Homo sapiens: one gene and its partners. The protein of the gene in region 3 interacts with the protein of the main gene of each other region in a pairwise test. Each region holds a gene or a part of one and is shown on either strand. Other genes may lie near its edges.

Region 1 (9,741 bases), on a different chromosome or scaffold from region 3:
CTTCTTCGCCTTTTTCTTCACAGGTGTTTTTTCTGCGGGTGCAGGAATGGTAGGAGCAAGTGGAGCAGTCTCCGACATGTTTTTGTCTTCCCAGAAAAGACAATAAGTAATCTCAAACTGTCAGAACAGCATGTCCTCTACGAGGGAGGCTGAGGGTTTATATAGAGAGACGCTGAGTGATGATTGGTTCCTTGCTCCATGCGCGGCGCTGCTGGAAAAGGACTCCTCGTATCTACCGCGCTGCTGTGTTTGTTGCCCCTTAAAAAAGAGTAAAAATATAAGAAATCTGGGCATGAAATAATTAGAGACTTGGGGGAAACTGATCCGAGAGAGTTCGGGCTTCATTCCTGCCTTTGTTTCTATGCATAGTTTTAAAACCGGCATCTTGAAACTTTTCTTATTCCCCCAACTCTCTTTCAAACTTCGGTCAAATCGAGACAACTTTCATGTTTTCCTTAAAAATACTATTTCTCCCTCTTTCATTTGCAAATCTCTCTTCCAGGGCATTGTTCTGTGAATTCTTACCGTCTCAACTTTATATAGATAAACTCATTTTTATCCAAATGTGCAGGGAAATTGGGTTTTTTCGCAGGAACAATAGCACAGGCTCTCTGGCGAGCTGTTTGCATCAACCTCTAGGAATTGGCACTGAGGTAGAAAGTTCTATGTACAAGAGGGGTGATTAGTTTAGAAAAGATAGTTTAAAAAAAAAAATAGTATTTGAGTTACCAGTGTGTAAGCTGGATTTGATCTCCATATTTCAGTGGTTTAAACATTTCCAGAAAGATAAGGGTGAGGCTACATTATTCCTCTTACAGAAAAAAAAGTCCTAAGTAGAGTTACCAACCTTCTCTTAAAAGTTAGGATCATGGATTTTTCCGATCTAGAATGGGCATTAAAGATCAACTACCACATCCCCAAAAAAGAAAACTGAACCAACAAATAATAGAATGGCAGGCCAACATCATTTTGGCAACTGTGAGCATTGAGAGCTTGTGTACATGTTTGTGTCCCATCACTTTATAAATAATTTAATGAAATACACTATTTTTTTGCTAATATTCATCATAGAATTTTGTACATTTTTTATATTTTAAAATCATATTTATAATACAAATTTCCCTTCCTCTTTCTCTGTACAACCTGTTTGAATAACTGGTAAAAGTCACTTTAAAAAAATAAAATACAAATTTTCAACATTGCAAGTGTGGGCATCAAGGGTTAGAAAGAAAAATATCTGATTTAAATCACTGTAAATTTTCATCATTCTACTTGGCTTTTTACACACAAAATATGAACTAAGCTGTCACACCCTAAATTAATTGGTTGAATATGTCCACCTAAGGAGCTGAACAAACATTTCAAAGCAAACATGAGTAACTTCAGTATTCTTTATCTGTTAGTTTGCAATACAGCTGATGGAATTAGGTTATTATTAAATAATTAAGCACAAAATTGATATTCTCCATCAAGTAATCAGATGCTGAAATGAACTCCTATGTTGAAGAAACAAGAGAAGTAGTTTGATGTTATGTTTCTTCTAACAAAAATACTCATTTCAAAAAATCAAGTTATTCTGGCCTACACTCAATAGTGATTAGAGGATTTTTTCATATAAATCCTAGATAAAATAATCAACTTTAAAGATGTCATCTCTCCTCATTCAACTAATTTCATAAAAATTACTTAGCTTGTCTTGGCCAGGCGCAGTGGCTCACGCCTGTAATCCCAGCACTTTGTGAGGCCATGCTGGGCAGACCACCTGAGTCAGGAGTTCAAGACCAGCCTGACCAACATGGTGAAACCCTGTCTATACTAAAAATACAAAAATTAGGCGGGCATGGTGGCACACGCCTGTAATCCCAGCTACTTGGGAGGCTGAGGTAGGAGAATCGCTTGAACCCGGAAGGCGGAGGTTGCAGTGAGCCAAGATAGTGCCATTGCACTCCAGCCTGGGCAACAAGAGTGAAATTCCATCTCAAAAAAAAAAATTACTAAGCTTGTCTTAAGTAATTATTTACTCTCTTGCATGTATTAGAAACAAGTCTCTGGGACTTAAGACCGTGTTATACACCACTGAAATACAAATGTGGTTTATAAAAAAGCTAAACTTATAGAATTGGATTAGTAGGACCCCACAATTCCAGTAGGGAAGCATTTTATAGGTTTCTGGAGGCAGGGGCGGTGCATCATTATGGATATCATTTTCAACAGTGATAGTCACAAGCATACTCTAAGTATTTTTTTTTGGGACCATAGCTTTATATTGCCTAGACGTAAAGGTACAATTAAAATTCAGATTGTTTACTGTTTATTATTTTGATCATTATTGTAGTCTTAATAGTTGTTGAATAATTGTTGGAATTGTTCACCGTGTTAGATATAGTCAATTAACAGATGCCACCATTTCATTCTTGTGCAACACTGACTGGTTCCCATAGCTACTTAGGATCTCAGTAAGTAAAAAGGCATTGGGCTAACTAATCTCTGCTCTTTCTGGAGGGCAATAACTGAGACTCAGTTTCACCAACAAAGTTCGCCAGATGTTCAAAGAGGAAAGGGGCTAGGCTACATAAGTTGGGACCTGGTACTTATCTTCTCTGTAATTGTAGCAAGGACAAGGTTCCTGAAAGCTGGATCACCCCATGGACTGTAAACTTGAAGTCCTGCAAAGTTTCACCTATTACTTTGGTAGCCCTCAAAAAGAGTTCTGTGTTGCTTTGGAATCCTAAATCTGAATATAATCTAAAACAGTAGATTTCCCATTACACTGAGGTTGGAACCATTTATTTTATAGATGCAAAAAGTAGCTAGGAAAAACTAGTTAGATAAGTGATAGCTATCTAACTTAAGGCCCAGTGTTCTCTTCATTTTGTGTTAACTCCCCCATCCCCACCACCACCATAGTAAATGACTATGAGAGTTGTAGGTAGTATTCAATAGATCAATCCAGTGACACTGTGCTTAAGCATCACACAATTCAGATTTTAAAGATTTCCAAAAAAAAAAAAAGAAACTATATAGAATAAATATTAAAAGGGGTGAAAACATATATAGACTATTATAGAAAATAAAGCTTTGTGTTAGAATCAAACGTGTTCAAAAAGTCCATGAGAAATCACATCGATTGTAACCGTCTATGAGGTAGTCTTACCTGAGGACACTGGCTCCTTGAAATTCCTCTTCAAGTACAACAGTATTGTGTTAATTTTATTTCCTAAGAAGGCCACTACTATACTCAAACTTACAGTTTTCTCTTTACATGTCTCAGGCATCCACCAAACTCCCTCCTCCCTTCTAGACTGGATTAGAAGCTCTTCAGAAGAAACCCCCTTATCACAGATACAGCCCAATAAAACTTTCTGCGATGATAAAAATATTCTGTATTAACACTGTCCAATAGGTAGCCACTAACCATATGTGGCTACTGAGTACCGTAATGTGGCTAGAGTAAGTGTGCAAATTAATTTTTAATTTAAATTAATTTAAATAAAAATGAGCACATGTTGCTAGTGGCTAATATAGGACAGCAGAGCTTTAAAACAATTATTCTCAAACTTGGAAGAGCATACCTACCACCCACTTAGAGATCTCATTAAAAATGTAATATCAATTCCATTGATTTGGGGTTGGGCCCGAAATTCTGTATGTCTAACAAGCTTCAGAGTGATGCCAGTATAGCTGGGATATGGCTGCTCCGCCCTTAAATACCTGACAGTAAGTAGAAGTATGCTGGTCTGATATCTGCCCCCTAACCCTGAGTGTACTTTTCCCTTTACTAAACTTTTGAGTTCTTTAAGAGAATAAATGTGATTATCTTTGTAAACCTGGTATTTGTACACTATTCTTGGCATGTAGTGGACATTAAATTGTTGAATGAATGAATGATGCTTGTTTGGTGCCTACCTCAAAAAGGAGAGCACTTGAGATCCTTGTGTCTATTCCTACAGGTAACTGAACCTAAGCCAAAATTTAAGTAGACTCTTAACTCCACAAAATGAATAATCTTCTCACTGCTTTTAGGCACCAGCAGAGACGGGATTTTTAAGTTACCCTTGCAGTATATAGGAGGCAATGAATGTGAAGCAGTAGACTGTAAGAGTTAATGTTGAATTTTTCTACTACACATACCCTATGATCTGTGTGTAGAACACTTCTTCCGGAATCTTTTATTAGGACAGTATTTCACAGAATTTATTAGTATTATTTTTGTTAATTTACAAACCTTTATTCACCATGATTTACCATGTATGCTTTAGTGGCATGAAAGCAGTGGTAGGTAGCAAGGTAGTGAGACTCCAGAATCGAGCCAACAATACAATGCCATTTATTAGAGGATAATGTCTTCAAGCCTGGGATTCCTTATCTTTACACCTCAGATATTGCATTATACATTGAAAAACTAAGAATGAAACTTCAATTAATATTGGTTTCCCTTACTAGAGGTCTTTCTTTATTAGGAATGCCAAAAACGATGTGAATGTATATGTCTCTGCCAAACGCTAAGTCTCATGATTGGCCAAATTTAAGAAGTATTGCTACATTTTAAGAATTAATAAAAATGGCCGGGCGTGGTGGCTCACGCCAGTAATCCCAGCACTTTGTGAGGCCAAGGTGGGTGGATCACCTGAAGTCAGGAGTTCGAGACCACCCTGGCCAACATGGCGAAACCCCGTCTTTACTAAGAAAATACAAAAATTACCCAGGTGTGGCGACGCGTGCCTGAAATCACAGCTACTCGTGAGGCTGAGGCATGAGAATCGCTTGAACCCAGAAGGCGGAGGTTGCAGTGAGCCGAGATAGCGCCACTGCACTCCAGCCTGGGCAACAGAGTGAGACCCCGTATCAAAAAAAAAAAATTAGTAAAAATACATTTTCAAAGAATCTTCACATTTAAAAATTAAAGCTAGGCGCCTGTAATCCCAGAACTTTGGGAGGCCGAGGCGGGTGGATCACCTGAGGTCAGGAGTTCGAGACCAGCCTAGTCAACATGGCGAAACCCCATCTCTACTAAAAATACAAAAATTAGCCGGGCGTGGTGACGCGCGCCTGTAGTTGCAGCTACTGCAGGGGCTGAGGCAGAAGAATCGCTCGAACCCGAGAGGCGGAGGTTGCAGTGAGCCGAGATCACGCCACTGCACTCCAGTCTGGGGCAGAGCAAAACTGTTTCAAAAGAAATAATAATTTTATTCTCTTGTCTATCCATTCGGTAGACAAGTGTAGCGTTACTGCCTCCTTTTTGCAAATAATAAGGATTTTAGGAGACAGACATTATCAGTTCGAGAGCCCACAGGCACTGGACTAGAAGACACAGAAACCTACACTCAAGACCCAAACAAGGAAACAGGAAGGAGTCAAATCAACTTGCATTTCCCCTACCCTCACCGCCCCCTTTCCTTCCCAAGGCAATAGTGTAGGGGACGCCCAGTAAGTTACGGAAAAGGCGGAGACAGAGGTTTCGTTCCCGCCCCTCCAATTCAGTCTCCAAAAAGGTCCGCATAATTGATATATAAGGGGCTTCAGTGTGTAGCAAAGTTGCAAAAGTTAAGAGTTGTTGTTTGTCTTCGATCATGTCTGGTAGAGGCAAAGGTGGTAAAGGTTTAGGAAAGGGAGGCGCCAAGCGCCATCGCAAAGTGCTGCGTGACAACATACAGGGCATCACGAAGCCCGCCATCCGTCGCTTGGCCCGACGCGGCGGCGTGAAACGCATTTCGGGCCTCATTTATGAGGAGACCCGCGGTGTTCTTAAGGTGTTCCTGGAGAATGTGATACGGGACGCCGTAACCTACACGGAGCACGCCAAGCGTAAGACAGTCACTGCAATGGATGTTGTCTACGCGCTCAAGCGCCAGGGACGCACTCTGTACGGCTTTGGTGGCTGAGCCTCACCCCGGCTTTTTATTTAACAGCTCACCCATAAAAGGCCCTTTTCAGGGCCACCTCCTTCGTCACACGAAGGGCTGTAACTGATGACGACTTGGGTTTCGTTTTGTAAATTTGGGATTCTAACTGAGTTAAACCGAGCCGTTTTTAGCGATCTTCCTAAGATGGCGGATGTGCTAAGGAGAAAGGGAAGGCGAAACATTAGAAACTTGTTCAGGTATTTCGATCGCAAACATTCACAGGAAAAGATGGTGGAAATGGTTTGGGAATACCAGCAGCCTTTTATGACGTATGTGATGTGTTTTATTCCCACGTTTCTGAAATTTACTCCTATGTTAGGTGGCTGGGACTTAACTACACTAGCATTACATGTTTAGTTTTTGAGATGGAGTTGCTCTTGTCCAGGCTGTAGTGCAATGACGCAATCTCGGCTCACCGCAACCACCCCCTCCCGGGTTTAAGCGGTTCTCCTGACTCAACCTCCCGAGTAACTGGGGTTACAGGCATGCGCCACCACGCTTGGCTAATTTTTTATTTTTAGTACAGAAGGGGCTTTTCTGTGTTGGTCTGGCTGGTCTCGAACTCCCGACCTCAGGTGATCCGCCCTTCTTGGCCTCCCAAAGTGCAGGGATTGCAGGCGTGAGCCACCGTGCCCGGCCTTAGTGTTATTTATTAGGCATAGAACGTGAGTAATCTTAGGGCGGCTGTGGACAGATCAATTACTGGTAAACTTAATCCACTACTTGTGTCCGGGCGCGGTGCCTCAGGCCTGAATCACAGCACCTTGGGAGACCACGGCGGGCGGATTACTAGAGCTCAGGAGTTCGAGACTAGCCTGGGCAACCAAAATGGTGAAACTCCGTCTCAACTAAAAAAGTTAAATAGGAAAGTTAGCCCGGCGTTGTGGCGGACGCCTGCTGTCGCAGCTAATCTGCAAGGGCTGAGGCAGGAGAATCGCTTGAGCACGGGAGGCGGAGATTTCAGTGAGCTGAGATGGTGCCACTCCACTCCTGCCTGGGCGACAGAGACCATGCCTCAAAAAAAAAAAAAAAAAAGTAAAGTTTGGCCGGGCTCGGTGGCTCATGTCTGCAATCCCATCTGTAATTCCAGCAGCTTGGGAGGCCGAGGTGGGTGGATCACTTGAGCTCAACGAGTTCGAGACCAGCCTGGCTAGCACTGCAAAACCTCGTCTCTACTAAAAATACAAAAATTAGACGTAGACGTGGTGACACGCGCCTGTAGTCCCAGCTACTCGGGAGGCTGAGGCAGGAGAATCACTTGAACCCGGGAGACTGAGGTTGCAGTGAGCCGAGGTCGCGCCACTGCACTCCAGGCCTGGGGCACAGAACAAGGCTCCGTCTCAAAAAGAAAAAAAAAAGCCCAAGTTTTTGTCTTACCCAGTGAATTCTTTGTTGGGGCACTTACTGTGATTTCAGGTCATTGATAATTTTACTGCTTTATTTCTCAAGTACTGGTAATTTATAACCCAAAGTGTTTCTCCTTGTGCTTTGTCAACCTACCCGGTTATCACCCGCGATCCTGACTCCTAACGTTTTCATTTTTTCACCATACCGAAGAAGTGGCTTCTCATCTGTTCTTTTTTTGTCAATGGTAATTCATTACATACACTGTTCCACAAATATTCTTCAACTTGGGGTTTCCTCTTCAAGAAGCCTTTACCTGATTCCTATGGGCAAAATCGGTGTCTGGGGTTTCCTTACAATTCACGAAGCACACTCTACACATGTCCCTAGCCCTACTTCAGAATTCCCTATACGACTTAGGAGCTACTGCACACTTAAATAGTTGGGAGTAATTCTTGCCCTCTTCCCAAGATATTTTCAGGTCTTGAACAATGTCTTTAATTTAGTATCCTCAGGATGTAGTATTTAGTTCATAAATGTTTGTGCAATGACTGAAGGAATCAATGAAATTAAGCTATCTGGGCCATCACCAATATACCGTTATAAAAATCATTCCCCTTTAATTAAGCAATATCTCTACTCCCACAGAACCATCTTCTCTATTCACCTTTACACAAATGTCAATATTCATGGCTGCCAACAATTTATATTACAGACTTTTTAAAATGCAGATTGAGATCCATTCACGGGTAATGAAAATAATTTAGTGGGTCCCAACCAGCATATAAAACGTAAATAGAATCCAATATAACAACTAGAAATTATCAAAGTATCCCATCTAGTAAGTAAAAATATTGTGTCATAAAATTTTAGTTTCAAATAGATGTACTTTTGGTTTTACTTTGGAACTTGAAGGAGAAAAGGTTCAAAAGATACTGGTCCATTTATTTAATGTATATATTTGTCAAATTCTCAGGTTAGGACATTGCCTCACTTCCCTGGGTTTCAGAACTTCAATACTCAGCCTCATTTGCAGCTGGAATGCAGATCTGTAACCTAGGCTTCACCAATGAGTCACAGGTTTAAAAGACTTATCTTCAAAAATGGGACCCAGGAGAGAAGAGACTGCCTAAAGCCTCTGTTTCTGCTGTGACAGATGTCAGATGGGCCAACTTTTGGTAGTAGCAGCAGCCATAGGTTACAGGTGAGTCAAGTTCTGATTCAGAAATAACAGGTGTGACACACCAGCACCTGACTAGTTCTGCAGCACAGCTTTGGAGTTTGTCCCTGGGAGTGTCATCAGGCGTGGTTCTACAGCCCTCCCAAGAATGCTAATATCTATTCAATATCCCTTTAAACATCACAGTTAATGTGCGATTACCAGTCAGCTGGCAACTAAGAATTTAGAGTTTCAAACAAAAAGGGTTTTAACTATTTTCTAATGGACTTTTGTGTATTTTAGGAATTCGGAGTCGTTTTACAACACTATTAAAAGGTTTTATGCCTTACTATACTTCTGGTAGCAATAATGCCTCCCCCCCAGATGCCCGCATCTTAATCCCAAAAGCTGCGAATATGTTTCCTTAAATGGTAAAAGTAACTTTCCAATGTTATTAAATTAAGGCTTTTGAGATTGGATGATTCTGGATTACCTGAGTGGTGCCATTGTAATCACAAGGATCCTTATAAGTAGAAGCGAGGAGAGTCAGAGTCAGAGAAGTGATAAGGGTAATGGAGTGTGATGCCTTTTGTAAACAGAGGAAGGGGCCACACTAGTTGCCCTTTGTTTCCTGAAACACATAAAGCTTTTCTCACCTTGAGATTTTCCACTTGCATGTCCTCTGGCCCAGAACATCCTTGGCGTGGCTCCCAATCTATGTGTGACTTCACACAAGAGCAGTGATATTTAAGCCAGTCATTTTGGCTACAATTCACTGTTTAAACACTATGTCATACTTTACAGGGCCATAGAAAATTATGGCAATTGCTGGAATGTTGTTTGACAGAATAGAGTGGAGAAACCCTGAAAGGTAAAAAGCTTGGCTTTGACAGAAAAAATAAATAACAATGAGAAAATGTGTATCCTAGAAAGGGTTTTTAAATTCTAGATTGACTCTTGCATTAAAATCTATTTTTAAAAAGTTTTGTTGTGTTCTGCTTCATGTGTTTGTTGTTGTTAAACAATGATTATTGTGTCGTTTCATTTACCCCTATGAAAGTGAAATAATACAAATCAAACATACACCATTGTAAGTTAAAAACTCATAGATTGAGAAAGTAAATATTTAATTCTGTGGAATTAAGTATATAAAGTTTTTCTTATATAAGAGTCTGTAGATCCTGTGTGGTTTACAGAAAAATTTAACTTTGACACCGTCTCTACAAGCTGTTTCCAGTGGCAAGGCAAAGGATTGGCCAAAAAAAAAAAAAAAAAAAAAACATATAATAGAAACACAGAACTGTTCACGACGTTTATTTTATGAAACATGGAAGT
Region 2 (11,572 bases), on a different chromosome or scaffold from region 3:
TGGTCTCGAACTCCTGATCTCAAGTGACCTGCCAGCCTTGGCCTCCCAAACTGCTGGGATTACAGGCGTGAGCCACCGTGCCTGGCTGACTTCTTAAACTTACCAATAGTTTACAAAGTAGGGGCCAGAGTTTTGACAAACCATTTATTTTGGCAGTACAGACTCAAATCAATTTTCTCCTTGAAACTTCAGCATTCTTGTCATAAGAGACAAAAGCAGTTACATGAGGATAAAGAAAAACTGGAATTTTATTATTTGTGGTTAACTTCTTCAGGTCAAGGTGTCAAAACAGTAATACAAGTAGAGATTTTTGACACCCACTTGCCATTCATTAAGCAAGTATCTGCAGGCCTCCTATGTGGCAGGCGCCACTCTACGATAAGGAGATACGAATCAGTGAACAAAAGAGAAAAAAAATACCTGCATGGGCGCAATGGCTCATGCCTGTAATCCCAACACTTTGCGAGGCTGAGGTGGGCGGATCACTTGAGCTCAGGAGTTGGAGACCATCCTAGGGAACATGGTAAAACCCCCCACTCTACAAAAATTAGCAGGTATGGTGGCACATGCCTGTAGTCCCACCTACTACGCAGGCTAAGGTGGAAGGATGGCTTGAGCCCAGGAGGTTGCAGTGAGCTGAGATTGTGCCACTGTGCTCCAGCCTGGGCACCATAGCAAGACCCTGTCTCAAAAAAAAAAAAACAAAAAACCCTGCCCATAGAGCTACATTCTAGTCACATACAAGACTGATCTAGGCCTTATGACTTTTAAAGACAAATGTAACAAAGTTTTTTTTTTTTTTTTGAGACGGAGTTTCCCTTGTTGCCCAGGCTGGAGTGCAATGGTGCCATCTTGGATCACTGCAATCTCCACCTCCCAGGTTCAAGTGATTCTCCTGCCCCAGCCTCCCGAGGAGCTGGGACTACAGGTGCGCACCACATCTAGCTAATTTTTGTATTTTTTTTTTAGTAGAGACGGGGTTTCACCATGTTGGCCAGGATGGTTTCGATCTCTTAACCTCGTGATCGGCCCGCCTCGGCCTCCCAAAGTGCTGGGATTACAGGCATGAGCCACCGCGCCTGGCCGACAAATACAACAAAGTTTTAAAGGAGCATTCAACATCCTAATGGATCTGTATAAGAAATAATTGATGATATATTAAAAATAAAATGGGCTGGGCATGATGGCTCATGCCTATAATTCTCCCAGCACTTTGGGAGGCCAAGGCGGCAGGATCACTTGAGCCTGGGAGGCTGAGGCTTCAGTGAGCTGTGATCAGGCTACTGCACTCCAGCCTGGGCGAGAGAGTGAGACCCTGTCTCAAAAAAAAAAAAAAAAAAGGGATTACAACTTGTGTTGTCAGTGAGCATACCCAGAGTTTGGGGAATTCACTAAAAGAAGATTAGGGTCTTCCACTCAAAACAGGCTTTACAGTACAGCAATAAAGACTTTTTAACCTGTTCTTTAATATGACCAATAGAATTAATTTCAGTGGAATTATCAAGCTGCAGTTAAGAGATGTGCTACAAAATCTGAGGCAATTACACTGGGAGGCAGAGATCTGTGTTTCTAAAATTTTTTTTTTTTTTTTTTTGAGATGGAGTCTCGCTCTGTCGCCCAGGCTGGAGTGCAGTGGCGTGATCTCAGCTCACTGCAAGCTCCACCTCCCGGATTCACGCCATTCTCCTGCCTCAGCCTCCCAAGTAGCTGGGACTACAGGCGCCCGCCACCACGCCCAGCTAATTTTTTATGTTTTTAGTAGAGACAGGGTTTCACCATGTTCGCCAGGATGGTCTCGATCTCCTGACATCATGATCTGCCTGCCTCAGCCTCCCAAAGTGCTGGGATTACAGGCATGAGCCGCTGCGCCCGGCTAAAATTTCTTATTGAAGTCAGGTAACAGTTTTATGTGCTGGGCCCAGTTATATGTTGGATCCTGAGCCTCACCCAAGATTTCCTGATAATCTCAATTCCTTATTACATGTGATAAACTACATTTCCTAATATGTAGCTTAATTTTTAAGTTGGTAAATTGAGTAGTTATGAGTTCTACAAGACATTAAGTTTTCTCCAGCAACTCCACCCTGCACATCCTCCTTCTCAGGGATTTTTATTAAACTAAGAGCTAGAGAGACAAAGTTTATATTTATTCAAGAATGGAACAGGTGTCAGTCTGTCAATAACCTGCTGGTAAACAGCAGCACTGTCAGAAACCATGCCAATTATCAGTTTGAGTTATACATATATTGGAGGTAGCATTTCAACACTCTGGTTTTGTTTCTTTGGCTTTTTTTTTTTCCAAAAAATATACTAGGAGATTTAAGACTTACTTCAGATTAAACTTGTTACATTAAGAAAACACTCTTGGCCGGGAGAGGTGGCTCACGCCTGTAATCCCAGCACTTTGGGAGGCCGAGGCAGGCAGATCATGAGGTCAGGAATTAGAGACCAGCCTGGCCAACATGGTGAAACCCCGTCTCTACTAAAAATACAAAAATTAGCTGGGTGTGGTGGCAGGCTCCTGTAATCCCAACTACTCAGGAGGCTGAGGCTGGAGAATCGCTTGAACCTGGGAGGTGGAGGTTGCAGTGAGCCAAGATCATGCCATTGCACTCCAGCCTGGGAGACAAGAGCAAGACTCTCTCTCAAAAAAAAAAAAAAGAAAAAAAGAAAAAAAGAAACTCCTCTGGACTACTTTTTTCTGTTGCACTGTATTACTTGCCTTTGTGGTTTTGTCGAGAATCAGTGTTTACATGATAGACCATAAATTACTGTGCCTTTTAATAAATTTGTACAATAATCTATGAAAGTTCTAGATGTTTAGCTGTGATGTCACTGGTTTTGTAGGAAAAATTTGGCCTGTAAATCTGCTGAATCATTCTGATTAGGCAGCTGTAAAAATTAATACATATTTTAACTTGCCGATCCTATGCCAGGCTTCACTGAAAAGCCTCCAGGAACAGACCTTAGGTTCCCACCTTTTTGCATATAGTATCTGAAAGGAATGCTGAACCTATTAGCCTCAGGCCGTTAGTTTGTTCTCTCTTACACACACACACACACACACACACACACACAAACCCTCCCCACCCGCACCCCCTGTTCACTTGCTATCTTCCACCCTGTATACCCCAAACAATGTGGTGTTGTAAGTAAGATTTCATAATCACATAAACTAGCAAAGATCCCTAAGAGGAAAGAAGCAAAGATTTATGGTCATTTTTGTAAAAATAAGGTTTAATAAAACATCAGCAATCTGCATGAGAAGGTAAATTACAATGAGAAACTTAAAAAGCTTACGGTCTAAGTCAACCAATGTAGAAGGTAGTGGTTGAAGAAAACAAGCTTTGACTTTTAAAATTTCCTAACCAGGGGATTTATTTAGAAATTCTGGCATTCAAATGTACATGTAAAATCCAATTTAACAGATCAAAATTGTTACACTAAGTTTCACTTAGTATCTAAGTATCCAATCACAATTGTATCTAAGTTTCACTTTTAAGAAACATTATAAAGGTAATTAAAACTCTAGGTGTATACTTATATGGAACTAGTTTATTTCCTATTTAACTACTGTTCATTGCGTAAAGTATGTTGTCCCAATTTTCAGCTGTTTTAAGGAATTATAAAACATTGAGATCTACTAGGAAGAGGGAAAGCCTACTTCTAAGTGATGCCACTAGTACAATCAGGCTTGGATTAAGTCTCTTCTCAGGGGCAGCTTTGATTTAGCCATGGACTCACAAGGAAAACAAGAGGTGGATTTGGTTAGGGAGCAACAGCAAATTCAGCCCGACCATATTCCTAATCTAAACACATTTTCAGCATAAAGATGTAAAAACAATTTTTTTTGGTTCAAAAGTTATGGTTGCCATGGAGACAAAAAGAATATACCTGAATTTATAAACTGAGATATATTTCAGCTCCTTGGCTTAAAATAATACATCTTTATATTCTTGAGACATATCTCAAGATGTTCCTTGCTTTGCCTTGAATAAAAATTTTTTTGAAAAGCCTATGTTTCTCGTGAACACACTCATACTTCAAATTTACCACCTATTTTAAGCTTTAAAATTCTTCTTGCCAGCATTTTTCAGCTAAAAAAAATCATTTCACGAATGTTTAGGTACTTTTTACAATGAAGGGATATGGCAGCATGGATACTGGGTAGCTGGCTAGGCTCTAAATACCTGATGACTCAACGCTTTGCACAAACCAGTCTTGCTGATTATTAAAATTTGTCCCTGGGCAAAATTAAAGCAATGCATGTTAAGGCTTCAAATGCAAAGGATTCACTGTAGTTGATTCTTTCAAGAATAGAAATCGACCATAACTTTGCTTTATAATCCATGTGATACACCACATTATAACAGATATCTACTGTGTTTCATGATTTCTGAATGTCATAACATTTGGATTAAATTGTATACAAAAAAATCACTAACCTGAAAAAAATCAGAGGAAAGAACAATATAAATTAGTGACACTGGAATTACAGAATCATTTTCTCCTAAGAAACAAAGTTTTATTTATTTCAAGTCGTGTTGCCAAGCAAATATTTGTAAAGAACACATTTTTATGACTGGAGGCTGTTTAAGTGGTTTTAAGAGTGCTTGAATAATTTTTAAACATGATAAATTTCCATCCTTTAAATTTAATGACCAATATTAATTAGCTTAAGTAGTGATTATTTTTTCACATTTAGTCTTTAAAAAAAAAAAAAAGGATTCCTATTAACCAACATACTTAGTCTTGACCTGGATGAATTTACAAAAGCCAGACAATGGGATACAGATTAATGTGGTTTAATACTGAGATTAATCAACATTGCCCTTTTTCCCTGCCAAAGGCTTATTTTCTAGACCTGCTTCACTATGACTACTAAAAGTGTACAACTAAAATTTTATTAGAAATCGCTCAGCTTACACACTCCAATCAGGAAGTTATTTAAATCACCTCAGATAAAACCTTTGTGACCTAACCTAATACATCATATGCAGATCATGAATACTTTCAGAAAAGAATCATTTCAATATGTCAAGGACATAGTATCTATGTGAATAAAATGTGTGCTTAAATGTCTCACTGTAAGGAAAAAAAAAATCAGTCAGGCTTCATATCAATTAGACAACTTTTACTAAATGAGAAAACTACATTTAAAATGTGCTTTAAAACAAAACGGAATTAGAAAAAAAGACATATGCATTTTAAAGAACTTTTGCACTGTGCTGAAAATGAAATATCTCTTGCAGTAAGTAATACAATGTGCCAATTCATAAAATGTAAGTTAACAGGTTTCTCAATTTAACATTTTCAAAGACGATATTAAGGTCAAAAATGTCACATCTATGGTAGCACATATAGAAGGGCATTATAGATATGATGTCCATCCCTATGAAGCTTACAAATTTGACAATGCTCAATAAAAGCTTTTAGAATCACATCCAATAGTGTCACAGTCAAAGAATCACAAATCTGTGTCCTGTAAGTTCTCTCCTTCTAAAATCTTCATGTTAACTTTTCTACTCATTGCCATTTGTTAATACTAACCCTTAAAAAAAAGAAATAGGAAAAGAAAGGCTGCAATAAACTTGATCAGGTACAGAAATTATTGCTACTATACTTCACTACAAAGCTTGTCTATACAGTATCATATGACCTTTGATTATGAAAAAATCAGAATAAAAATCTTTAGTGACATAAGCCTTACAATCGTATACAACATTCACATGGCAATATTAGACAGTTAAGCACCCAATACCCATAGTTGACAAAATGTCCCACTGACCAGCATTCATTTAAATACATCCTTCGTATAGAGGGAGGAAAAAGAGACAGTGTCAGCTTTCCAAGGCTTGTCAAAAAAGGATTCTCATGTACTGTGGATCTAAAAACAAACAACAACTCAAAAAAAAAAAAAAAAAAAAAAAGAAAGAAAAAAGAAAAAGAAAACCAATGCAGGTGAAGGTGTTACCAGGAAGTTAAGCATGCCAAAAGGTGTTCCGTGCGAATGAAAACCTAAAGCCAAGGTACCACATAATCACATTACCAACTAGTTGGGTAATACTATATGAGCCTTATCTTAAATGAAATGCTACTGCACAATAGAGCATCAATAAGTTAAAAATTAGAGTGCACAAATCCAAATCAGTGTCAATTCCTGTATAAAGCAAAATATTCACTATCAGCTGTAAAGTTTGCCCAGTCAAACTGTATGATTAAAATCACTGGATTGGACAATGTGCGTATTTTTTTTTAAAACAATCAATCTCTAAAATTCCTTTTTAATGTAATGAGGCGAAAGTTTTCTTAGTAAGATTAAACAGATATCTAAGTAGATAAACAAGGGAAAATAATAGTTGGTGAATGTCTGTAAAGCTCTTCCCATATTTCACTTTTAAAAATGTTTAGGGAAAAAAATTAGAAGTATTTGCCATTATTCTAGTGAAAACAAACAAAAACAAAACAAGCTCAAAATAATTAAACAACCAAGCAACACTAAAACCACATTACACAGATGGATCATCATGCTTTCATCTGGTTTAACTATCACATCTAGTTTAACTGGGATGCTTTTCAACTTTAAAAATTGTGATACATGAAGATGTAACTTTAATGGATAATTTTGAATTTGGATTTAACTTTGTTGACTATAACAGAGTATACTTATTACAATACAGTGTAGCACATCTTTCTATTAGAAAAAAATTTAAGATCCTTTACCCGTCTCCTTAAGTTAAAGGTGTGACATCATAAAGGGTGTCAAATGGCTGGATGGTTTTACAGTGCACACTTATATATTATGAAGTATGTCCTTAACAAATCTGATGGTTTCTTTACAGAATTCCTTTCTTCACCTTTTCTTCGGCGGATTAGCTGTTCGAGGTGGAGTGACAGGACGTCCAGAATTCAGTCCACCATACTGGTATTTAGCTTTCTTTTCAGATGGTTTCAATATCTTAAAGTAAATTATTAACAAATAATGTTATTTTTTCATGTACAGAAGTTAAGAAAATTGTTACAATTGTGATTTTCAATAAATGGCATAAACTGCAAAAATGCAATAAAAATGTAGAATAGCAAAGTTCCATAAACATTTCTTAAAGTGTGCAAATGTCTGAACTTTGTCATTCCACTCATATTTTAATAACAAAAGTACACTAACTCTATCAACTATCCAATCCTTAGATTTAAGTAAAAAACTTTTTGAACTTAGTGTATCTCTGTTGTGAGGAAAAGAACACTGGTTTAAGAGTCAGAAGATCTATGTTGTCATCATAATTCTGATACAGTAACTTAGGAGGGTAACTAACCTACAAGTCACAAACCCTTCAGACCTTATTTATTTATGTATAAATAGATCTTTTTACTTAAAAAACAGCTTTATTGATATAAATCTAATTTTAGAACATTTGTCACCCCAAAAAGAAAGCTTGTTCCCATCAGCAGTCACTCCCCATTCCTGCTCTCCACATCCTCTAACTCTAACCAACTACTAATCTACTATGTGTCTCTATAGAATTGCCTATTCTGAACATTTCATATAACTGGCATCATATAATATGTGGTCTTTTGTGACTGGCTTCTTTCACTCAGGTTTTCAAAACCAGTTTTGAAGTATCAGTCCTTCATTCCTTTTTATTGCTGAGTTGTACATTGTACAGTCCATTGTATGGATGTACCACAGTTTATCTATTCAGTAGCTGATGGACATCTGAATTGTGTGACTTTTTCGGCTATAAGGAATAATGCACATTTATGTAACAGTTTTTGTGTGAACATGTTTTCATATATCTTGGGTATATACCTAGAGGTAAAACTGCTGCATCATATGAGAACTCTATTCCCACCATTAATGTATGAAGATTCTAATGCCTCCAAATCCTTGCCAAAACTTGATACAGTCTGGCTTTTTTACTACACTCATTCTGGTGGATGTAAATAGAGCTTTAACCTACATTATACATAAAAAAGTCATGATTTTCCAAAACTAAAACAGTATAGAAATATGTACAAAGTATTTTTTAAAAACTATTTAGAACATAATAGTGCCTTAGTGAAGAGAATATATTAATCCAACACCACTATGACAACTGCTGGAAGGATAAGGTATGGTTACTATATTTAATTTGTAAATGAGCAATCAACCATTTACCATTCAATTGTACTAATTGATGGAAACAGTATATTATGATAAAGAGAAAGAGGAATGGGAAAGCCCCAATGCATTTTAAGAGAAATACAGTGTGTGTACATCAAAGACATAGAATAGCCTTTGCAAAAGCAAAGTACTGAAGCTGTTTTACTCAGTGAACAAGAATGATTTGTAGGAGCACACTAAAGCTAAAACTGGCCTCTTTTAAAAATGTAAATGTTGAAACCAAAAGTTGGTTCTTCAAAAGAATAAACAAGATAGACTGCTAGCTAGATTAAGAAAAGATCCAAATAAGCACAATCTGAAATGAGAAAGGTGACATTACAACCAACCCCACAGACATACAAAATACCTAGAGATTATAAACACCTGTGCACACAAACTAGGAAACCTAGAATAAATGAATACATTCACAAAAACACACATGCGCTCCCAAGAAATGAATTCATAGAAACACACATGACCTCCTAAGAAATGAATAAATTCATAGAAACACACACAAACTCCGAAGACTGAACCAGGAGGAAATTAAAATCCTGAACAGAACAATAACAAGTTCCAAAACTGAATCAGTAATAAAAAAACCTATAAACCAAAAAAAGCCCTGGCCCAGAAAGATTCACAGCTGAATTATATCAGATGTACAAAGAGCTAGTACCAATCCTACTGAAACTATTCCAAACAATCCAGGAAGAGGACCTCCCCCCTAACTCAGTCTACGAAGTGAGCATCATTGTAATACCAAAACCTAGCAGAGGCACAAGGAAAAAAGAAAACCTCAGGCCAATATCCCTGATGAACACAGATGCAAAATCGTCAACAAAATACTAAAACCGAATCCAGCAACACATCAAAAAGTTAACTCACCACAATCAAGAAGGGTTTATTCCTGGGGTGCAAGGTTTCAACATATGCAAATCAATAAATGTGATTCACCTCATAAAATTAAAAACAAACACCATATGATCATCTCAATAGATGCAGAAAGGCTTTCAATACAATTCAACACCCTTTCATGTTAAAAACCCTCAACAAATTAGGCACTGAAAAATTAGGAACATACCTCAAAATAGTAAGAGCCATCTGACAAACCCACAGCCAACATCGTACTGAAAAGGGAAATGCTGGAAGCATTCCCCTTGAGAACTGGAACAAGAGACTAGGATGACCATTCTCACCACCCCTATTCAACAGAGTACTGAAAGTCCCTGCCAGAGTAATCAGGCAAGATAAAGAAATAAAAGGCATCCAAATAAGAAGAGAGGAAGATAAACAATCTTTACTGACGATAATGATTCTATACACAGAAAACCCCATAGACTCCGCCAAAACGTGCCTGGAACTGATGAACAACTTTGTTAATCAGTTTCAGGATACAAAATCAATGTATAAAAACCAGTAGCATTTCTATACATCAAAAACATCCAAGCTGAGAGCCAAATCAAGAACTGCATTTACAATAGCCACAAAAAGAATATCAAGGAATACAGCTAACCAGGGAGGTGAAAGATCTCTACAACTACAAAGCACTGCTGAAAGAAATCAGAGGTGATGCAAACAAATGGAAAAACATTCCATGCTCATGGATAGAAGAATCAATATTGTTAAAATCTCCATACTGCCCAAAGTAGTTTACAGATTCAATGCTCTTCTTATCAAACTACCAATGTCATTTTTCACAGCATTAGAAAAGAACTTTTCTAAAATTCATATGAAATTGAAAAAGAGCCCGAATAGCCAAAGCATCCTAAGCAAAAAGAACAAAGCCAGAAGCGTCACACTACCAAACTTCAAGGTACATTATAAGGCTTACAGTAACCAAAACAGCATGGTACTGGTACCAAAACAGACATATAAACCAATGGAACAGGATGGAGGAGCCAGAAATAAAGCTGTACTCCTGCAACCATCTGATCTTGAACAAAGTCAACAATAACAAGCAATGGAGAAGAGACTGCCTATTTGATAAATGGTGCTAAGATAACTGGCTAGCCATATGCAGAAGACTGAAACTGGACCCCTTTCACCATACACAAAAATTAACTCAAGATGGATTAAAGATTTAAATATAAGACCTCACACTATAAAAACCCTAGAAGAAAACCTAGGAAATACCATTCTGGACACTGTCCTTGGGAAATAATTTATGACCAAGTCCCCAAAAGCAACTGCAACCAAAACAATGATTGACAAGTGGGACCAAAATAAACTAAAGAGCTTCTGCACAGCAAAATAAACTATCAACAGAATAAACAGACAACCTATAGAATGAGAGAAAATACAAACTATGCATCCAACAAAGGTCTAATATCCAGACTCTATAAGGCATTTAATTCAACAATCAAAAAACAACCCCATTAAAAATGGGCAAAGGACATGAACAGACACTTCTCAAAAAACAAACGTGCAGCCAACAAATATATGAAAAAATGCTCATCATCACTATTAATGTAAATCAAACCACAAGATACTGTCTCACACCAGTCAGAATGGCCATTAATAAAAAGTTAAAAGATAATAGATGTCAGCAAGGTTGTGGAGAAAAAGGAATGTTCAAACATTGCTGGTGGGAGTGTAAATTAGTTCAGCCACCGTGGAAAGCAGTGTGTAGATTTCTCAAAGAACTTAAAACAACCACCATTCGACCCAGCAATCCCACTACTTTGGGTATGTACAAAAAAAGACAAGCACTTGTATGTTAATCACAGCACTATTCACAATAGCAAAGACATGTAATCAACCTAGATGTCCATCAACAGTGAACTGGATAAAGAAAATGTGGTACATATACACCATGGAATACTATGCGACCATAAAATTAAGGAAGGAAATCAGGTCCTTTGCAGCAACATGGATGCAGCTGGAGGCCTTTATCCTAAGCCAATTAATGCAGGAAGAGAAAATCAAATACCACATATTCTCACTCATAAGCAGGAGCTAAACACTGGGTAAACATGGACATAAAGATGGCAACAATAGACACTGGGGACTACTAGAGTGGAAAGGGTGAGGGGGAATGTGAAATGAAAAACTCTATGCTCACTACCTGGGAGATAAGATCATTCATACACCAAACCTCAGCAATATGTAATTTACACATGGAACAAACCTGCACATGTAACCCCTGAACCTAGTACGTACATAAATTAATAAAAATATTATAATAAAAGTGAGCAAACAACCCCCCGTACATGGTATACAATGTGCTTCCTCAAAAGAAAAAAATAAATAAATAAATGTTCCTGTGACATAAACGGGTAGTTTAGTATTATTTTGAAAGTTTTTTTTCCTCAGGAAACTATTTTTTTTTGGGGGCCAAGTCTCGCTCTGTCGCCCAGGCTAGCGTGCAGTGGTGCAATCTCGGCTCACTGCAACCTCTGCCTCCCGGGTTCACGACATTCTCCTGCCTCAGCCTCC
Region 3 (11,961 bases):
CAAGACCAGCGAAAATGTCAGTGTGCAGGATGGCTGCACGTGGTGGGCGGGGAGGGCGTTGATGAGGAGCCGATTTCATAAGTGGCCACTTTGTTCATGAATTTTGTGTTGTGATGACATTTGCTTCCTCACGCTGAGGCCGGGCCACCACTGCCACCCTACCCTGTAGCTGATAAAGCTGCAGGTACAGTAGTAATTTATTTGTGTTTCTTTTATAACAATAAGGAAATGTTTGCTTCAATTTTTTAAAAAGACGTGCAAACGAAAGAGAATTAAAATGTATGTGATACTTCACCACTTTCTAAACTTGAAGAAAAGAGATGCATAGACTCTAAGATGTTTGTATTGTTTTGCCTTCCAGGAGGTTTCAGTCAGGAAGAACTTCTGAAAATCTGGAAGGGGCTCTTCTACTGCATGTGGGTGCAGGATGAACCCCTTCTACAGGTAACATGCGTTCCCTTTGTCATGCTCCCGGGTTCTTGCTGTGGATGGATAAGAGACTTGATCACTCATGCTGTGCCAGTCCCCCGATACACTGACGCACACTGACAGTCATGCTTCAAGGAGTCATTTTCGTACCTCTTGTCCATACAGAAAGGGATGCAGGGTCAACACAGTTAGGTGAATTGTCTTTTCAAATAAAAGGAAAGATGTGCATTCGTTGTCAATTTACTATTTCTCTGTAAAATTTCATAGGTTCCATGCTAGGTTTTACATTACTTAAAGTTTCTCTCTTCTGGTAAGTTTATTTTTTGTGGTCAAGGATGGCATGACAGGAGCACTAACTAGTCAAGACCCTGTGAAACCCAGGAGAGGGCAGCCGCGTCACTGGGCTTCGGGTTCCATGGAGAGCAGCAGTAGCGCTCAGCGAAAGCCTCCCTGTTAAAGCCGAGTGCGCCTGCGCAGTCACCCAAACGCGCAGCAGGCTCGGTCTCTCTGTGCGGGGCCTGCTGAGCCCGCTAAGCCCACCACCAAAGCCAACACTAAAGATGTGACTTTCACTTTTTAAAAGCTTTGTTCTGACCCATGAAAGTAGATCCGATCTGCCTCTGTAGAGGGAGAGCAGGCTTGTCCAACCCACAGCCACATGTGGCCCAGGATGGCTTTGAATGCAGCCCAACACAAATTCGGAAACTTTCTTAGGACCTTATGAGATTTTTTTTTTTAAGCTCTTCACTATTACTAGTGTTAGTGTATACTGTGTGTGGCCCAAGACAGTTCTTCCAGTGTGACCCAGGGAAGGCAAAAGACTGGACACCCCTGAGGTAGAGGAACCAGCCTTGAGAAGTGCTTGCAAGTCTCTGATGCAGATGACAGGTCCTCAGGGCAAGATTTTACTTTTCTGGGTTTTAATGTGCAGCCTTGCCACTTCTCCCGTGCTGCGTAATAACTTGTTTTAATTTATTTTTATTTTACTGAACATATTTTGAGTAGGAGCAGGGCAAAATATTTTTATATTACATTCAAAAGTAACAACCAACAGCTTTAGTGGAGGAAGAAAACCAATGGACAGAAATCTCATTTTCCCACGAAGGAAAACAGACCGGGTGTGGTGTGAGTCAGACTGATGAGGAGTGTGCTTTTCTCACGGAACCTCAGAAGAGAGGGCGTCTCCCCAGAGTGAGCCTGCTGCACCTCAGCAGGGCATGCTCTCTCAGGGACCCCTTCACCCAGGACAGAGCCCAGAAGGCTGAGTTTACCTTCACATTCCACCTTGTCTCTGAGCAAGCTGTAGGGAGGACTTTCCCATGGCGTGCAGTGAGCATCCCCAGCATCTCACCTCTGTGAGGTCTGCCCTGCTGTCTTTGTGTTTCACATCATTTCTGGGATTATGATGAAGTTTTCTTTTTTTTTTTTTTTTTTTACAGAGTTTCACTCTGTTGCCCAGGCTGAAGTGCAGGGGTGCCATCATGGCTCACTACAGCCCCAACCTCCCTATTGCTCAGCTGATCCTCCTGCCTCAGCCACCCGAGTAGCTGGGACTACAGGTGCACGCCTCCATGCCTGGCTAATTTTTGTATTTTTTGTAGGGACTGGGTCTCATTGTGTTGCCTAGGCTGGCGTTGAACTCCTGGACTCGAGCGATCCACCCGCCTCGGCCTCCCAAAGTGCTCGGGCTCCCATTACAGGCATGAGCTGCCCAGCCCAGCTTAGATGGGGGTTTTTTGGTTGTTGTTGTTGTTTTGAGATGGAGTCTAGCTCTGTCACCCAGGCTGGAGTGCAATGGCATGATCTTGGCTCACTGCACCCTCTACCTCCGAGTTCAAGCAATTCTGTCTCAGCCTCTCGAGTAGCTGGAACTACAGGCACACGCCACCACGCCTGACTAATTTTTGAATTTTTAGTAGAGATGTGGGGAGTGCCATCTTGGTCAGGCTGGTCTTGAACTCCTGACCTCAGGTGATCCACCTGCCTCGGCCTCCCAAAGTGCTAGGATTACAGGCATGAGCCACTGCACGTGGCCAGATATAGTTATAAAGCCAGGAACTGATAACTAATTTATTTCATCTCTAGTTCATCTGAACTGATAATTAGAGATGCTTTTTTAAACATGTAGCTTAACACAGTTCTTGCAGACATACCAAGTTAGCATAATAGTCCGTCAATATTGGAACTTACACATTTGATAAAATTCAGATATTCGGATACATACTTCTTAGTGGAAGTGACAAGAGGGGCAGACCTTCCCACGAGCGGAAGTGGGAGAAGGAAGCAGGCCGCGGCACAGGCATCTCATGTTGCCCCACGATAACCCCCATGTTTCTCCCCAACCCCGCCTCTGCAGGAAGAGCTCGCCAACACCATTGCACAGCTAGTCCATGCTGTTAACAACTCAGCGGCTCGTAAGTCCTGTTGTTTCTTCTCCTTCCTTCCAAGTTTTCCGACTTGCTAGTTTAATGGGAACCTTGTGCCGGTATTGTGTAGATGTCAGGGGACAAGCCATTCCTGTTTTTAAAAGCTGTGATAAACTTAGTCATTGACTTGGTGAGAGGGCACAGTGTCTTGGGGAGAATCAATTTGACATCTCAAAGATTTCAGAAAATGCTTTTAGAAATAACAATCCTCCAGAATCTTCAAATTCTGAGTTACTTTAACACTTGGAGCCTGGAGAGCCAGATGCAGGGTCCACGGTGACCTCTGGATGCCAGGTTCGTCTTCCCCAAGAGCAGAGCCGTCACTGGTAATAAATACATAGAAGACACCACCGGTCACAGACTATGAAGTAACTCCTCTCAACCATAGAGAAAAAAAATTAGTTAGGGTGCTTCTGTGTCAGGCGTTGATTGCTTATAAAGGAAGAAAAAGGTAGCCGACTTCGTTTGTTCTGCTTAATGCTCTTCAGAAAAGCATCCTAATGATTTCAACCACCCCCAGTGGTGCTCTGAATATTAGCTGACTCATATTGAACAAAATTCTACATATGATGTATAATAGATTTACAAAGATGAAAAAAGAATTGTGCAAAAAGAAATAAAGCCAAAAAATCAACAAAAATTGTTTTTGAATAAAAAAGTGCTAGTTCTGTGGGTCAGAAGAGAAAAATTCAGTGTTTTGTACCGTAGCTCACCCAGATGCCACCTATAATCAGACAAAAATATGAGTTTCTATATGGATTATATAAGTGTCAGAATTAATGGTTTTGAACTGATTGTGAGGTACCAGTGCAGTAGGAAGAGTTACTAGAAGTGGAACAAGGAGTCTTGATTTTAAAAGAAACGTGGCTTTGCAGTGGATAAAGGAAAAATGCTCCAGAGAGCGCTCAAATCTGACATTGCAATGTTGCCAGCCCTTCCGGTTATTCTGTTTTTATTTAAATTCAAAAGACCAAGGCCAGGCACGGTGGCTCACGCCTGTAATCCCAGCACTTTGGGAGGCCGAGGTGGGTGGAACACCTGAGGTCAGGAGTTTGAGACCAGCCTGGCCAACATGGTTAAACCCCGTCTTTACTAAAAATACAAATATTAGCCGGGTGTGGTGGTGCACACCTGTAATCCCAGCTACTCGGGAGGCTGAGGCAGGAGAATCACTTGAACCCAGGAGGCAGAGGTTGCAATGAGCTGAGATCATGCCATTGCACTCCAGCCTGGGCCACAGAGTGGGACCCCGTCTCCAAAAAAAAAAAAAAAAAAAAGTAAAAGATCTGCACAGTCTAAGTGATGTTTAATAAATAAGTGTAAAAGAAATGATTGAGTATATTTAATTATCAACAGATTTTCTAGCTGCCCAAGAATTACTGAGAAAAGTGAATAATAAATAATGCTAGTTTGTTCCTCTTCATTATTTTCTTGCTATATGGTAGTATGTTGATGTGGAAGCCAAGTATTTAGAGCCTTTTGTTCACTGCAGAACACCTGTTCATTCAGACCTTTTGGCAAACCATGAATCGAGAATGGAAAGGAATAGACAGGCTACGCCTGGACAAATACTATATGGTAAGATCTGCCGCAGTTACTTCAAAAACTCCTGGGAAGAAAAGAATGTCCTTTATCTTAAAAACAATGGGAAGGTTTATTTGTGAAGCAAAACAAGCCACAGGCTTAGTGTGAAGGAAGAATTTGAATGTGTCCTGGAAAGCTTCTCTGTTTTGGCTTTTGCAGTTCTTAAGGATGAGTTTGGGGAGCATTAGTGAATACGTTGGGTATTTTTTGAGACAGAGTCTCTCTTGCTCTGCTCCCCAGGTTGGAGTGCAGTGGTGCGATCTCAGCTCACTGCGACCTCCGCCTCCTGGGTTCAAGTGATTCTCATGCCTCGGCCTCCTGAGTAGCTGGGATTACAGACGCGCACCACCATGCTTGGCTAATTTTTGTATTTTTAGTAGAGATAAGGGTTTGCCATGTTGGCCAGGGTGGTCTTGAACTCCTGGCCTCAAATGATCTGCCCACCTCAGCCTCCCAAAATGCTGGGGTTACAGGCATGAGCCACTGTTCTTGGCTATGAATATGTTTTTTGATCTAGAAGGTAAATATGACTGTTGTGAATATTTTTTTACTTTTGGGATCCAGGCCATAACAATTTCATTGGTCCCTTCATTCTGCTGAGCTGATTAATATTTCTTACCTTTCCTTTTTTTTTTTTTTTTTTTTTTTTTTAAACAAAAATTGCCTTTCTTTAGCTGATTCGTCTGGTCCTGAGGCAGTCCTTTGAAGTCTTGAAGCGAAATGGCTGGGAAGAAAGGTCAGTAAACCATTTGAGTTAGCATGTGGTAGCCTTAAAACTTAAAAGGTAGTAGAGTGTCAAGTTTTCTGAACTTGTAGAGTACCAATGAGAAGCTCGATACATCGTTACCTATAGAGAATTGAAATCCAGTAGAAGGCATAAAACAGTTAAGTATATATGACAGTTAACATTTTATCCTGATTTAAGTGATTGCTTTTTTCCTTGTAAAATGATTTCAGCCTTGCATTGATTGTTAGGCTGTGTAGGTTCTAGACGGAGTATTTTTGTTTCTCTTTGGGAAGTGGGACGTGTTGGCATACTGTCATTCACAGAAGCATGCGTTTGGTTCTTTAGCCGAATCAAGGTTTTCTTGGATGTCCTGATGAAGGAGGTCCTGTGTCCTGAGAGTCAGTCTCCTAATGGAGTGAGATTCCACTTCATTGATATTTACCTGGATGAACTCTCCAAAGTCGGGGGGAAGGAGGTAAGCAGCTGCCGACAGGCTGCCCACGGGGTGAGGGGGCCGCCAGTGTTCGCAGTAGTCGCCAGTGAAGTGCTGTGGGGTGGCCCTTCGCATGACCAGCGACTGTAGCAGCGTGAATTGCTTCAGTCCTGTCTGGGAATGTGTCCTAAGCAGCTGGTGGGATGGGATTTGTGCACTGAGGATGTACATGACAGTCTTACCTGTAAAACGGAATTGAAAGCAACCTACAGACTCCACTAAAGAACTCACTAACACGGGGGAGTACTCAGGATCTAGGGAGCTTTATAAAGCGCTAGGAAAAGCTATGCAAATGGTAGACATTTTTAAGGTATATACTCATAAATAGACAAAAGGCTGGAAAGGAAACATACATTTTTTAGTATGCAAATGATTCTCTGAATGTGGGAATGTGCACAGATTTTACTTTTCTTTCACAGGTGTTTTGCAGGGAACATGTATTTTTTTGATTAAAAGAAAATATGTTATATTCAAAACAATAATTCTTTTGTCTCACACTTGGAGGCACTGTCCCTGTTACCCCTCTTGTAGAGGAAGTATATGTATGTCCTGTATCAGGTTTGTCCAGCCCGCAGCCTGAGAGCTGCATGGGGCCCAGGGCAGCTTTGAATGTGGCCCAACACAAATTTATAAACTTTCTTAAAATATGAGGGGTATTTTGCATTTTATTTTATTTTATTTTATTTTATTTTATTTTATTTTATTTTATTTTATTTTTAGCTCATCAGCTGTTGTTAGTGTTTGTGTATTTTAGGTGTGCCCCAAGACAGTTATTCTTCCATTATGGCTTGGGGAAGTCACAAGATTGGACACCCGTGTTGTATATGTTGGGCATATAGGATAGTGCAGGTCAGGCTGGGTGGCTTTCTCCAGCCACTGCACTAAGATACCAAGTAGCTGGAGGGCGGCCTCAGTCTTCAGCCTGGCTCCAGGCTTCTGTGGCATTCCACAGGGGCGCTTTGGGGCTGTGTGAGACAGGCATTGCTTGGTCTAACTCCACCTTTGTAAAAGATGGGAATGGTCCCTTTTTCAAGGACATGTCAAGAAGGGAAAGGCTCTTTCTCAATTTTTCCCTTTTTCTAAATTACAGCTTTTAGCAGATCAGAATCTCAAGTTTATCGATCCATTCTGCAAAATTGCTGCGAAGACGAAGGAGTAAGTGATTCCCCTGTTCGTTCCTCCTGCTCCGTGGCATTTGCTCATGGGAGTTACTTGCCGTCGTGCAGCCTGGCACAGGGTACCCAGGACACTGCTTCACAGCAGAGAGCGGCTGGAGAAGACAGCCGAAGCTTTGAGCAGTGATTTGGCTCTTCTAGCTTCAGTATTTGCCTCACTCATTCCAGGAATGCCCTCCCACACCCAAAGATCTGACCGCTGGGCGTCCCGTGCCTGTCGGGTGGCACTTAGGCAGTTCCTCTCAGATGCTTGCTGGCCCGTGGGGGCCACTCCAGACCACAGCAACGTGTGCAGGGCTTCCCTCTGTGCCCCTGAAGCCAGAAGGCCAGGCCGTTTGTTCTCATCACATGCTCTCCGCTGTGCTTCTACCCTCAGCCACACCCTGGTACAGACCATAGCTCGGGGTGTCTTCGAAGCTATCGTAGATCAGTCTCCTTTTGTGCCTGAAGAGACGATGGAGGAACAGAAGACAAAAGTGGGTGATGGTGACCTCTCTGCTGAGGAGATACCTGAAAATGAGGTATCCTTGAGAAGAGCTGTCAGTAAAAAGAAGACAGGTAGGAGGATGTTCTTGGTCAGTGTAGCTTTCTTTCTGCTAAAATCCTCCTCAGACAAACAGTTTTTAATACATTTGTTGGCATCTTACTGAATGCAACCTAGAGTTGATGGCTCTGCCTCAGCCCCTCCCAAGAAAGGCAGCAGAGGTGGGTTCATTGTGCCTGGGGGGTGCCTAGCGGGGCTCTGGGGAGACCTGAGATCTGTCCCATGTGGCATACACACATTTCTGTACCTCTCAGGATCTCAGGACTCTCCTCGAGGATTTTACCATTGTCACTGCTAGTGCTTTTTGTTTGCTTTGTTGTTTTTTGTTTGACACGCTAACACCTTAGCATGCATGGCCTCATTTCTACGGGTTACTCGAGGGACGTACGCTTGTTTCTGTGGCTGTCCTTTCTCAACTCATGGCTTCCTTCAGGGAATGTTTTTCTTTTTCTTGGGATGTTTAAATGCCTACTGTGTACTGACATAATTCTTACTACTGTTTTGTGTCTGGACTTAATGTAGAATGTGCATTTGAAGTTGCAGGCCCATCCAAACTCTCACCACAGTGCTTTATGGCATCTGAATGCACAAAATAAGGGAAATGGTTAGATCACAGCTTACCCATGCTTTTGAAGTGTTGTATACCCATTTAAAAGCAAAGCTCCTAAAAACTAAGGACCAAAGGAAATGTGACAGACATATATATATATTTTTTAAAGCAGGGTACAAACTCTACATAGAAGGAGTCTGATTTGTTGTTTGGGTTTTCTTTAATTATTATGGCTATATAATAGTTGTGCATCTGATTTGTTTTTAAACGTTTATTTGTGCTTTTATTTTAAGTGAGAACATAAAATGTTTGGTTTTCCATTCCTGAGTTACTTCACTTAGAATAATGGTCTCCAACTCTAGCCAGGTTGCTGTGGATACCATTATTTCATTCCTTTTTATGGCTGAGTAGTATTCACGGTGTATATTCCGCATTTTCTTTGTCCACTCATTGGTCAATGGGCATTCAGGCCGGTTCCATGTTTTTGCAGCTGTGGATTGTGCTGCTATAAACAAGCGTATGCAAGTGTCTTTTTCATATAGTGGCTTCTTTTCCTCTTGGTAGATACCCTGCAGTGGAACTGCTGGATCAAATGGTGGATCTACTTTTAGTTCTTTAAGGAATCTCCACACTGTTTTCCACAGTGGTTGTACTAGTTGACATTCCCACCAGCAGTGTAGAAGTCTTCCCTGTTCACCACATCTGTGCCAACATCTTTTTTTTTTGAGATGGAGTTTTGCTTCTTGTCACCCAGGCTGGAGTGCAGTGGTGCCATCTCAGTTCACTGCAGCCTCCACCTCCCAGGTTCAAGCAATTCTCTTGCCTCAGCCTCCTGAGTAACTGGGATTACAGACACCTGCCACCAGGCCCAGCTAATTTTTTGCATTTTAGTAGAGATGGGGTTTGATCATGTTGGCCAGGGTGGTCTCAACCTCCTGACCTCAGGTGATCACCCACCTCGGCCTCCCAAAGTGCAGGGATTACAGGCATGAGCCACCGCGCCCGGCCACCAACATCTATTATTCTTTGATTTTTTAAATTATGGCCATTCTTGCTGGAGTGAGGTGGTATCTGATTATGGTTTTCATTTGCATTTCCGTGTGTTTGTTGACCATTTGTATATCTTCTTTTGAGAACTGTCTGTTCATTTCCTTAGCCCACTTTTTGATGGGATTGTTTTTTTCTTGCTGATTTGTTTGAGTTCCTTGTAGATTCTGGATATTAGTCCTTTGTTGGCTGCATAATTGGCAAATCTTTTCTCCCATTTTGTTTGTTTATTCTGCTGATTATTTCTTTTGCTGTGCAGAAGCTTTTTAGTTTAATTAAGTCACAGCTGTTTCTGTTTTCATTGCATTCACTTTTAGGTTCTTGGTCATGAACTCTTTACCTAAGCCGACATCTGGAAGAGTTTTTCTAATGCTATCTTCTACAATTTGTATGGTTTCAGGTCTTATATTTAAGTCTTTAATCCATCTTGAGTTGGTTTTTCTATAAGGTGAGAGATGAGGATCCAGTTTCATTCTTCTTGACAATTACCCCAGCACCATTTTTGAATAGGGTGTCCTTTCCCCACTTCGTTTTTGTTTGCTTGGTTGAGGATCAGTTGAGTGTAAGTATTTGGGTTTATTTCTGGGTTCTCCTGTTCCATTGGTCTACATGCCTATTTTTATACCAGTACCAGTACCATGCCATTATGGTGACTATGGCTTTATAGTATAGTTTGAAATCGAGTGTTCTGATGTCTCCGGGTTTTTGAGGGTTTTTTGTTTTTTTGTGTGTCTTTTTTTTTTTGGTGTTTTGGTGTTTTGGGTTTTTTTTGGCGGCGGGGAGGGGAGAGAGACAGAGTCTTGCTCTGTCGCCCAGGCTGGAGTGCAATAGTGCGATCTCAGCTCACTGCAACCTCTGCCTCCCATGTTCAAGCGATTCTCATGCCTCAACCTCCCTAGTAGCTGGAATTATAGGCGGGTGCCACCACGCCCAGCTAATATGTCTTTGTATTTTTAGTAGAGATGGGGTTTCACCATGTTGGCCAGGCTGATCTCGAACTCCTGACCTCAAGTGATCCACCAGCTTCAGCCTCCCAAAGTGCCGGGATTACAGGCATGAGCCACTACTCCCAGCCTCTAGATTTATTCTTTTTGCTTAGTCTTGCTTTGGCTATGCAGGCTCTTTTTTGATTCCATATGAATTTTAGGATTGTTTTTTCTAGTTCTGTGAAGAATGATGATGGTATTTTTATGGGCATTGTGTTGAATCTGTAGATTGCTTTTGCCAGTATGGTCGTTTTCACAATATTGATTCTACCCATCCGTGAGCATGGGATGTGCTTCTGTATTTCCATTTGTTTGTGTCATCAGTGACTTCTTTCAGCAGTGTTTTGTAGTTTTCCTTGTAGAGATCTTTCACATCCTTGGTTAGGTATATTCCTAAGGTTTTTGAGGTTTTGTTGTTTGTTTTGTTTTTTGTTGTCATTGTTGTTTTGGTAGGGGTTTTTTTGCAGCTGTTGTAGAAGGGAGTAAGTTCTTGATATGATTCTCAGCTTGGTCGTTGTTGGTGTATAGCCATCATACTGATTCATGTAAATTGGTTTTGTATCCTGAAACTTTGCTGAATTCATTTACCATTCTAGGAGCTTTTTGGGTGAGTGTTTAGGGTTTTCTAGGTATATGATTGTATCATCGGCAAACACGGACTTTGACTTCCTCTTTACCAGTTTGGATGCCGTTTATTTCTTTTCTGTGATTGCTCTGGCTAGGATTGTTCGTGCTTTTAAAAAATCTGGAAGGATAAACCAAAATGTTTTATTTATTTATTTAGAGACAGGGTCGGCCGGGCGCGGTGGCCCAGGCCCGTAATCCCAGCACTTTGGGAGGCGGAGACAGGTGGATTACGAGGTCAGGAGTTCGAGACCAGCCTGACCAACATGCTCAAACCCTGTCTCTACTAAAAATACAAAAAAAAAAATTAGCCAGGCATGGTGGCACATGCCTGTAACCCCAGCTACTCAGGAGGCTGAGGCAGGAGAATCACTTGAACCTGGGAGGCGGAGGTTGCAGTGAGCAGAGATCGAGCCACTGCACTCCAGCCTGGGCGACAGAGGGAGACGCCATCTCAAAAAAAAAAAAAGAGAGACAGTGTCTTGCTCTGTTGCCCAGGCTGCAGTGCAGTGGAGCAGTCATGGTTTATTGCGGCCTCAACCTCTTGGGCTCAAGTGATCCTCGCACTTCAGCCTCCCAAGTAGCTGGGACCACAAGCACACACCTCTTTATTTTTTGTAGAGACAGGGGTCTCACTATATTGCCCAGGCTGGTCTTAAACTGTTAGGCTTAAGCATTCCACCCACCTCAGCCTCCCAAAGTGCTGGGATTAAAGGCATGAGCCACCACACCTAGCCCAAAATGTTAGTATAGTTAGCTGTAGGTGGCAGAATTATGGGTGATTTCTGTTTCCTTTGTACTTCTCTATTTCCTACAGTGATTATATATTATATTTAATCAGAAAAAATCAAGCCGGTTGCAGTGGCTCATGCCTATAATCCCAGCACTCTGGGAAGCCCAGGCAGTCGGATAACTTGAGGTCAGGAGTTCGAGACCAGCCTGGCCAACATGGTGAAACCAAGTCTCTACCAAAAAGTACAAAAATTAGCCAGGTATGGTGGCGGTCGCCTATAGTCCCAGCTACTTGGGAGGCTGAGGTGGGAGAGAATCACTTGAACCCAGGAGGTGGAGGCTGAAGTGAGCCAAGATCGTGCCACTGCACTCCAGCCTGGGCAACCAAGCAAAACACTGTCTCAAAAAATAAATAAATAAACAGATAGATAGATAGATAGATAGATAGATAGATAGATAGATAGAATCAAGAACCTTTTTTTTCTTTTTAATTTTTAGACCTGGTGGACGGGAAGTAATTTTTTTTTTTTTTTGAGATGGAGTTTCGCTCTTGTCGCCCAGGCTGGAGTGCAATGGCGCAATCTCAGCTCACTGCAACCTCTGCCTCCCGGGTTCAAGCAATTCTCCTGCCTCAGCCTCCCAAG

What was found.
Region 1: the proteins of RRP1B (region 3) and H4C6 interact in binary tests that used the Homo sapiens proteins (3 or more experiments, as listed by UniProt).
Region 2: the proteins of RRP1B (region 3) and PPP1CB interact in binary tests that used the Homo sapiens proteins (3 or more experiments, as listed by UniProt).

The regions. Positions count from the first base shown.
Region 1 is NC_000006.12:26,234,856-26,244,596, forward strand, and holds H4C6 (histone H4), read left to right. Parts: upstream 1-5,537; 5' UTR 5,538-5,570; coding exon 5,571-5,882; 3' UTR 5,883-5,938; downstream 5,939-9,741. Other genes in the region: H1-3 (histone H1.3), read right to left, coding at 1-78. UniProt on the Homo sapiens protein: Core component of nucleosome. Nucleosomes wrap and compact DNA into chromatin, limiting DNA accessibility to the cellular machineries which require DNA as a template.
Region 2 is NC_000002.12:28,794,585-28,806,156, reverse strand, and holds the end of PPP1CB (serine/threonine-protein phosphatase PP1-beta catalytic subunit), read right to left. Parts: intron 6,959-11,572; coding exon 6,854-6,958; 3' UTR 3,217-6,853; downstream 1-3,216. UniProt on the Homo sapiens protein: Protein phosphatase that associates with over 200 regulatory proteins to form highly specific holoenzymes which dephosphorylate hundreds of biological targets.
Region 3 is NC_000021.9:43,669,523-43,681,483, forward strand, and holds part of RRP1B (ribosomal RNA processing protein 1 homolog B), read left to right. Parts: intron 1-361; coding exon 362-444; intron 445-2,785; coding exon 2,786-2,843; intron 2,844-4,347; coding exon 4,348-4,433; intron 4,434-5,113; coding exon 5,114-5,175; intron 5,176-5,511; coding exon 5,512-5,641; intron 5,642-6,749; coding exon 6,750-6,814; intron 6,815-7,210; coding exon 7,211-7,392; intron 7,393-11,961. UniProt on the Homo sapiens protein: Positively regulates DNA damage-induced apoptosis by acting as a transcriptional coactivator of proapoptotic target genes of the transcriptional activator E2F1.